3 separate regions of the Homo sapiens genome follow, and all the other regions are linked to region 3. Evidence: fine-mapped expression QTL. A gene starts in region 3. Each other region holds a variant in brackets. All regions are shown on one strand. Distances are between the middles of the regions.

Region 1 (2,751 bases), 260 kb before region 3:
GGCAGTCTCGGCCCGGCTGGCGAGGTGGCAGATGGAGGTGCGTAGAGGCTGAGGGGCGTGCGTGGTGCCCTGCCGGCCAGCACTCATGCTTGCTCCTCACTCCAGGGCCTGAGGAAGCCCAGGCCAGCCCCTGACCCTGCCCTGCTGGGGCTGTTCTGCGCGTGGGCACCCCGTTTCTGTGCCCCGTTTCTGGGCTGTGCCAGGCAGCCCAGAAAGGGTTAGGCTCTGACAGGCACGACCCCAGGCCCAGGAAATACTGTCAGCTCAGTTCACGGGTGAGAAAAAGGAGGCTGACGTCGCCAGGCTGGTAGGGGTGGAACCAGCGATGAAACCACGAGCCTCCCATGGCACCAGCTCACCCTTGAGTCACCCCTCAGTGCCACAGTGCTGTGGGGTCCCGCCTCAGCTGCCCCGGCCTGGGCTGCAGCGCCAGGAGCCTGCCCAGCCCTTCCCTGCATCTCCCCAGCCCGGGCTGCCTTCCCTGCATCTCCCCAGAACCCAGGGGCCTCAAATGCTCAGTGCCCCGGCTGAATGGTGGCCAAGCCAATGAGCAGCGCTGCCCTTGCTGAGCCCAGCCACACATACCCAGGTATCTGCTGTGTGGCAGAGCTGTCCCTGTGGGCACAGGAGGAGTGGCCTGTGCCCACCTCCACGATGGCACCCAGAGCCCAGCTGGGATGCTGGGGTCCCCACCAGTTCCACAGTGAGTTGGGAACCTGGTCATAAGCACTGGGGGCTCGAGGGCAAATGGGCAAGGGCTCAGGGTTAGGGACGGGGACTCCTGATGGCAGAGGAGGAGAAGCAATGCTCTGAAGGAGGACAGGCGGGAGCTGGAGGGCGGGGAACAGGGCTGGCTCCTGGGAGGGATGAAGGGAGCAAGCCTCAGGCCGGTGCTCCAGGCACCACCCAAAGTCTTGCCGCGTGGAGTGATATCTGGACCTGGCATCTGAGGAGACTCCCCCGAGGCTGCACAGCTGGATTCAGCCTCCAGCAGCTTGGGAGGGGACACAAATTGGAAACGTGGGATTTGGGAGCACCCTGTGCCCACGAACAGCCCCAGAAGCATCCCAAAGGGACAGGGGCCCAGGCCACATGTCACCACCTCACTTGGGGCTGGTTCCAGTAGAGCACACAGGACGCCCATCCCCCCGGCACCAGGGTGGTAAGAAGCCTCTGGTTCCCCCAGGAGCGGGGGCCAGGTGAGAACAGCCCAGGGTCCTCGGAGGTGGACCTCGGCCCCTCCCCCATGACAAGCCCAGGACCTTGAGGCAGAATGGCCACCTTTCGGGAGGGAGGGTTGGTGAAGAGGCCCGGACACCCTGCATTGGGTAATGCCGGGAGGGGATCCCCTGCCAGTGCCCCCCCCTCCAAGCAGGGGGACTTTGTCCACGGCTGCC[C/T]CCAGTGCCCTGCCAGGAGGCTGAGGACCCCGGCACATCGGCAATGCTGCTCCCACCCTGCCTTCAGGCTAGCCTAGAGACCACAATGGAGAAATCATGCCCCCATAGCGAGGGGACTTCCTCAGCCCGGCCACCAGCACTCTCTCCAGCCCTGGGCTCAGATGGCTTCTGGCTGCTTCTAGAAACAGAGCTCTTCCACCACGAGCTGTTGGCGGGAGACCTGGCTGATGCAAACAAATTCCCGCAGGGAAATCCACCTGCATCCATGCACGCATGACATCCACAGGGCAGGCCCGCATCCACGCATGGGTGACAGTCAGGACAGACTGCAAGCTGCTATTTTGGGGAAAACAATGAGAGGAGATTTCTTCTTTTTGCTCAGGGTCCCTGAACCTCAGCCCTCCTGAGATCTCTTGTTTTGGGGGCTCAGGATCCCTGAACCTCAGCCCTCCTGGTACTGGGCCGGGTCGTCTGTTCGGGGGGTCGTCCTGTGTGCTGAGATGCTCAGCAGCATCCCTGGCCCCCTCAGCCTGCCCAGCTCACCTGTCACCAAACCTGACTCCACATCTCCACTGTCCCGGGGTAGGAAGACAGAACTGCCCCTGAGTGAGAACCACCATTATTGCTTAACGGTTTTTTTCTCCTCTACTCTGAACACATCTGAATTGCGCAGCAAACACACATTGACCAGAAAGCTGCCAGAGCCCCCTGGAGCAGGTACAGCAGGTGCAGGTGTCCCGCGTGGACCCCATGCCCAAGGGAGCAGCGCAGAGCAGGGCCTCGGCTCCTCCGCAGATCCCAGGCTGAGAAGCTAGCCACGATCTTCTCTGAGAATGCGTTCCTGCCTTCCCTCCCACAGACACACGGAAACTCTCCACCTGACACGGGGGCTGCCAGCTCCCGGCACAACCCGCTTTGCGGCAGGGCTGGCTCTGCAGAGCCTGAGTCTATAAAAGGGGGAGAGGTGTGCACAGGCACTCAAGTTCGGTGTTGAAATAAAATCTTGCGCAGTAAAAAGTTTCACGTGTGTTGGGGAACAAGGCCCTAGGGCCAAGAAGCAGCAGCCTCCCACCGGGCCCCTGGCAGGCTGAGACCACTCTCCCCTTCCTGCGTGGCCAGCATCCTCCCGGGCTGGGCCCCTCCTCCTCCACACACCCCTCACAAAGGACTCAGGTGCTCGGCTAAACAGGAGAGGGCTACAGCATGTGAGTAGCCCCATGGCAGACCCACCCTGAGGGTGGGAGAGGCCTCATGCTCAGATGAGGGCTTCAGGCAGGGGTTGCGTGTGGCCCTGAGACCAGGACGGGGTCCTGGCCTCAGCTGCCCAGCTCCCGGGTGGTCAGTGCCGCCCTTT
Region 2 (2,751 bases), 48 kb before region 3:
AGAGTTGAGGAGACAGCTGAGAAGCCAAGGTCAGGGTGGCTAGGGTCAGGGGACAGGGCACCCTTAGCTTGAGCACCTCCACTGAGCACCAGCCACTCTCTTCTTATGGGGCAACTCCCAGCACTGGACACTTTTTTTTTTTTGAGATGGAGTCTCACTCTGTCATCCAGGCTGGAGTGTAGTGGCGCAATCCTGGCTCGTTGCAACCTCCACCTCCTGGGTTCAAGCAATTCTCCTGCCTCAGCCTCCAACTAGCTGGGATTACTGACACCTGCCACCACACCTGACTGATTTTTGTATTTTTACTAGAGACAGGGGTTCACCATGTTGCCTAGGCTGGTCTCGAACTCCTGACCGCAAGTAATCTGCCTGCCTTGGCCTCCCAAAGTGCTGGGATTACAGGTGTGAGCCACCATGCCTGGCCACTGGATGCATTTTAGACAGGACCACTCAGGGGGTGTAGTAGCTCACACCTGTAATCCCAGCACTTTGGGAGGCTGAGGTGGGAGGATCAGTTGAGCTCAGGAGTTCCAGACCAGCCTGGGCAACATAGTGAGATTCCCCTGTACAAAAATGTAAAAATTAGCTGGGTGTGGTGGCATGTGCCTGTAGTTCCAGCTACTGAGGAGGCTGAGGCAGGAGGATCAGTTGAGCCCAGGAGGTTGAAGGTTGCAACCAGCTGAGATCACACCACTGCACTGCAGTCTGGATGACAGAGCAAGACCCAATCTCAAACAATAATAAACAAAGAGGATCAGGTGTCTTAGTCTGCTTGTTATAACAAAATACCTGAGACAGGGTAATTTATAGAAAGCAGAGGTTTCTTTCTAACAGCCGTGGAGGCTGGGAGTCCAAGCATCCTCTGGAGGGAGAGAGGGAAGGCAGGCTGTGTCCTCACAGGGTGGAAGGTGGAGGGGGATCCCACACCCAAGACCCCCCACCCACTTTTTTTTTTGAGATGGAGTTTCACTCTTGTTGCCCAGGCTGGAGTGCAATGGCACGATCGCGGCTCACCGCAACCTCCACCTCCCGGGTTCAAGTGATTCTCCTGCCTCAGCCTCCCAAGTAGCTGAGATTACAGGCATGTGCCACCACGCCTGGCTAATTTTGTATTTTTAGTAGAGACGGGGTTTCTCCATGTTGGTCAGGCTAGTCTCGAACTCCCGACCTCAGGTGATCTGCCTGCCTTGGCCTCGCAAAGTGCTGGGATTACAGGCATGAGCCACTGCGCCCGGCCCACTTTTTTTTTTTGAGACAGGGTCTCACTCTGTCACCCAGGCTGAGTGCACTGGCATGATCATGGCTCACTTCAGCCTTGACCTCCAGGGCTCATGTGATCCTCCTGCCTCTGCTACCCAAATAGGTGGCACTACAGGCACATGCCACCATGCCCAGCTAATTTTATATTTTTTGTAGAGATGGGGTCTCTCTTTGTTGCCCAGGTTGGTCTTGAACTCCTGGACGCCGGTGATCCTCTCATCTCGGTCTCCCAAAGGCTGGGTTTATAGGTGTGAGCCACTGTGTCTGGCCCCAAGTCCTTTTATTGTTGCACAAATCCAACCATGAGGGCAGGGCCTATGGTCAGGCCCCACCTGTCTATACTGTTGCAC[C/T]GGGCAGTGAGTTTCCAGCCTGTGAATTTGTGGGGCACATTCACCTCCCAGCACCAGGAAACAGAATGCTGCCTGACGCTGCTACCTAGAGTAACACAGTGTTGCACGCTGAAAGAGTGAGGGTCATGATCAACTCAGTATACCACTGGAGGCGACGTGAGTAAACAGCAAACTGTTTCTCATACATGCAGAATGTTGGCAAACAAACTGCGTCTGCCACCTAGAAGGAATGCTGAGGGCAGTCACGCCTCAAGCACAGTGTTTCTTGTGATTAGGTACATCTGAAGCCTGTTAGTAACAATATGAACCTGTGATCAATTAAGCAGCTGACCGATCGTTACCTCCTCCTCCCTCCTCCTGCTACCCAATAAATAGGAAGGGCTGTGGAAGCTCGGGCGGTGCCTTTGCTCACTAGAAGCAGGGAGCTCTCTTCTTCTTCCCCGTGTTACCCTTCCGTTAAAATAGTTACTTTTGTTTTAAGTTTTCATTTCTATGTTTGTCCCTCTTCCTTCAGTCTCATAATGATGGTCTCAAGTAGTAACAGCAGTCTGCCACAACACAGGAGGTGTGAAATCCACATTACAGAGGCAAATGGGTTGCTGAGGACACTGATGTTGGTGATCAAATAGTTTGTGGGGGGCCTGGGCAACATGGTGAGAACCCACCTCTACTATACATATATATACAAAAATTAGCTGGGGGTGGTGGCTTGTGCCTGTAGTCCCAGCTACTCAGGAGACTGACGTGGGAAGATGGCTTGAGCCCTGGAGTTGGAGACTGCAGTGAGTCATGGTAGCACCACTGCACTCCAGCCTGGGCAACAGAGTGAGACCCTGTCTCTGGAATTAAAAAAAAAAGGTCCAGGCTGGGCGTAGTGGCTCACGCCTGTAATCCCAGCACTTTGGGAAGCCGAGGTGGGTGGATCACCTGAGGTTGGGAGTTCGAGACCAGCCTGGCCAATATAGTAAAACCCTGTCTCTACTAAAATTACAAAAATTAGCCAGGTGTGGTGGCAGGTGCCTGTAGTCCCAGCTACTTGGGAGGCTGAGGCAGGAGAATCCCTTGAACCCGGGAGGCGGAGGTTGCAGTGAGCCGAGATTGCACCACTGCACTCCAGCCTGGGTGACAGAGTGAGACTCCG
Region 3 (2,751 bases):
CCCCAGGCAGCGATGACTCCATGGCGGTCTCATCCCTCACTACACTTTTCCTAGTGCTGGCATGGTAAAAGGCAATTAACTATAAATTAAACGGAAACTCAGTGTAGCAACTTCCATTTTGTTACAAGACTAGGAAACAAAACTTGTCTCTGATTTTCTTTTTAAGAAGACTTTTAAGTGTGACTGCGCGCGGTGGCTCATGCCTGTAATCCCAGCACTTCGGGAGGCCGAGGAGGGCGTATTACTTGAGGTCAGGAGTTCGAGACCAGCCTGGCCAACATGGTGAAACCCCGTCTCTACTAAAAATAAAAAAATTAGTCGGGCTACTCGGGAGGCTGAGGCAGGAGAATCGCTTGAACCCGGGAGGCGGAGGCTGCAGTGAGCTGAGATCGTGCCATTGCACTCCAGCCTGGGCGACAGAGCGAGACCGTCTCAAAGGCTTATGGGTTTCTGATCAAGTCATCTTAGCGACTGAAAGGGCTTCAGAGAAATCTGAACTTAAGTGCAAACAAAACAAAACAAACTCCAAAACAAAAAACAACCAACCATCAGACTTTAATCTCTATAGGGACAGAGCAATTTTCCTCAAACTTTTGCTCAGCAGAACACATCTGAAACTGGCCCCCTATGTGCTACGCATCCAGAAGAGGAAAAGCCGGATCTGAAAACAATATTCCACGCTAAATGGGCCGTCCCGGCCGGGGCAGGCGGTCCCAGCACCCGTGCTGAGCTCCCCGGCATACGGCACGACGGGGCCGCGCCGGCTCTTCGGCGACAGCAAGGCCGGCATCTAACTCCACACCGTCCGCGCTTGCACCGCGCACCCAGGCTTCGTACCCAGCTCCCAGGTGGGGACCGCGCCCCCGCGGCGCCCGCGCCCCGCGCCCCGCGCCCCGCTCCCCACTCCGGCCCTGGGCCGGCGCCGCAGCGGCCCGGAAGGTACCTGCTTAGAGGGAAGGGCCCCGACTGGCGCTGCCGCGGCCCCGGTGGAGAGGGCGGCTGGGTCGGAGCGGTGCCGCGGCCCGGGGAGGCGGCCAGGCGGCGCCTCAGCACCCGGACCCCAGGGGCGTGCGGGACCCGGCTCTCGTGGACTTCCTCGGCAGCCGCCGCTTCCTCAGACGGAACTCGGGGGGCGCCCCTTCCGCCGCCCCAGGCCGCCTTGCACCCCAAGCTGCTGCGGCAGTGACAGGGAAGAAGCAGACCCGGCCACCTCTGCCCATAGCCCCGGCCGCAGCCTCCACTCTCATGACAACCAAGCCCAGCCCTGGGCCAGGGCCTCTGCGCGTGCGCGACCCCGCCCCACCCCAGGCCGCGCCTGCGCACAAGGGGAGGGCTCCGCTACTCTGGCCCTCAGGGTTGTGTAGTTTCCGGGGCCACGGCACCTGGGCACACCAGGTGGCGTCGCGCCTTTGCTTTCCTGAGCCTTCTGAGTAAGGTAATGTGGTGTCCGTGGGGCGACGCCTGCGCACAAGACCGCGTCGGGCCTCACTTTTCCCAGGCCTTCTGGGTAATGTAGTTTCCGGGATCGGCACCCGGCCTGTGCCAGCTTGCAGAGCTCACCAGGTGCAGACCCCTGCGGCCAGGGCGAGGACGGATCTGAGCAGCTGGGCAGCAGGTGCCACCGCCTGTGGGACCCAGAGGGCTTGAGGACATCTGCAATGCTCCAGAAGCCCAAGAGCGTGAAGCTGCGGGCCCTGCGCAGCCCGAGGAAGTTCGGCGTGGCTGGCCGGAGCTGCCAGGAGGTGCTGCGCAAGGGCTGTCTCCGCTTCCAGGTGCCCGCTGGGCTAGGCGGGGACGGCCCGTCGGGGAGGCGTGTGGGGAGAATAGGAGGTGCCGCTTTTCCTCTTCCAAAACGGAGGGTGCAGGCGGCGCCCGGGGCGGGTAGTTTTCGTTCGCCTCAGCCGCTAGGACCCCGGGCCCCCGCAGCCTGGGGTTCCTGAGCGTGGCTTCAGAACGCAGGGGGGTTGGGGGACGACCTGGATCACCCCTTCCCTCTTCCCACCTCTCGGGCAGGACAGCCCTGCATCAGAGCTAGGAGACCCGGGTAGAGTGCCAGGTACTGGCACGCGGGGTCACGGCTGCTCTGCCTGTCCGGCCTCAGCTTCCCCTTGAGTAACATGAAAGGCTTGGCTAGGTGGGCTCTGCAGGCCCCTTCCAGCCCTCGCAGCTGGGGATTGCAATCGTCACCTTATTCTAGGTTGGTTTTCTTTTTAGACCAGTACTAGGGTTACCAGGTGTGCATTGCCGGGGTCGGTGCGGGTGGGGTGGGAGTAGCCATAAAATGCCTAAAACTGACCAGTGCAGAGTAACAGGGAACCGGACTCCAACAAATTAACAGTGCCACGTGCCGGTCACACTTGTGCACAGAGGCAACCAACCGTTCTCCTTCGTGTGCCAGCACCGCTCTGGCGGCTGTGTGCTGGGGATGGTGGTGTTCAGCTCCTGGCAGCAGGGAGGCGGCGCTGTCAAAGACAGGCTCTATTTGAAGCGCCCTCAGGAGCTCATTTAAAAAGGGTGAATCCTGCAGAGCCAGCAGTCACCCCCTGATGTATGTTTTTCCTGACTCTTCGTATTTTAGAACGGCCCGCAGTCAGGCGCCCTTGCTCCCGCTCCCTCATCCTTGCCTGGGCGTTGGAGCGACTGTGGCATACAGGCGGCAGCCTGAGCCTGCTTCTTTAAGCACAGCTCATTCCGGTCGTTTGTGAGGCCTGCAGATGCAAAGCCCTCGTCTTGAGACCCTTCCTCCTCCTG

Alleles and levels. Alleles are on the strand shown, and positions count from the first base shown. SD is a standard deviation of normalised expression in the study named. Not every link is listed here.
For the expression in regulatory T cells of the gene that starts at base 1,266 in region 3, allele C in region 2 goes with a higher level than allele T (moderate effect, 0.46 SD a copy in Bossini-Castillo 2019).

What was found. PIP is the estimated chance that this variant, and not a neighbour inherited with it, causes the effect.
Region 1: its variant is the best candidate, but not a certain one, in a credible set for the expression of CEP104 in left ventricle (GTEx, PIP 0.61).
Region 2: its variant is the best candidate, but not a certain one, in a credible set for the expression of CEP104 in regulatory T cells (Bossini-Castillo 2019, PIP 0.56).

The regions. Positions count from the first base shown.
Region 1 is chr1:3,599,672-3,602,422 of GRCh38, forward strand. All of the region lies in intron 2 of MEGF6 (multiple EGF like domains 6), which reads right to left. Among named protein-coding and RNA genes, the nearest start is that of MEGF6, 10 kb to the right of the region's middle. The variant C/T (reference allele first, on the strand shown) is at 1,398.
Region 2 is chr1:3,808,152-3,810,902 of GRCh38, forward strand. No RefSeq gene overlaps it. Among named protein-coding and RNA genes, the nearest start is that of LRRC47, 13 kb to the left of the region's middle. The variant C/T (reference allele first, on the strand shown) is at 1,611.
Region 3 is chr1:3,855,946-3,858,696 of GRCh38, forward strand. It overlaps CEP104 (centrosomal protein 104), which reads right to left and starts at 1,266. Exons shown (of 22, transcript NM_014704.4): 1 at 944-1,266. It overlaps DFFB (DNA fragmentation factor subunit beta), which reads left to right and starts at 1,531. Exons shown (of 7, transcript NM_004402.4): 1 at 1,531-1,772. The coding sequence starts at 1,659. RefSeq lists silencers at 933-1,432, 2,363-2,412 and an enhancer at 1,573-1,752.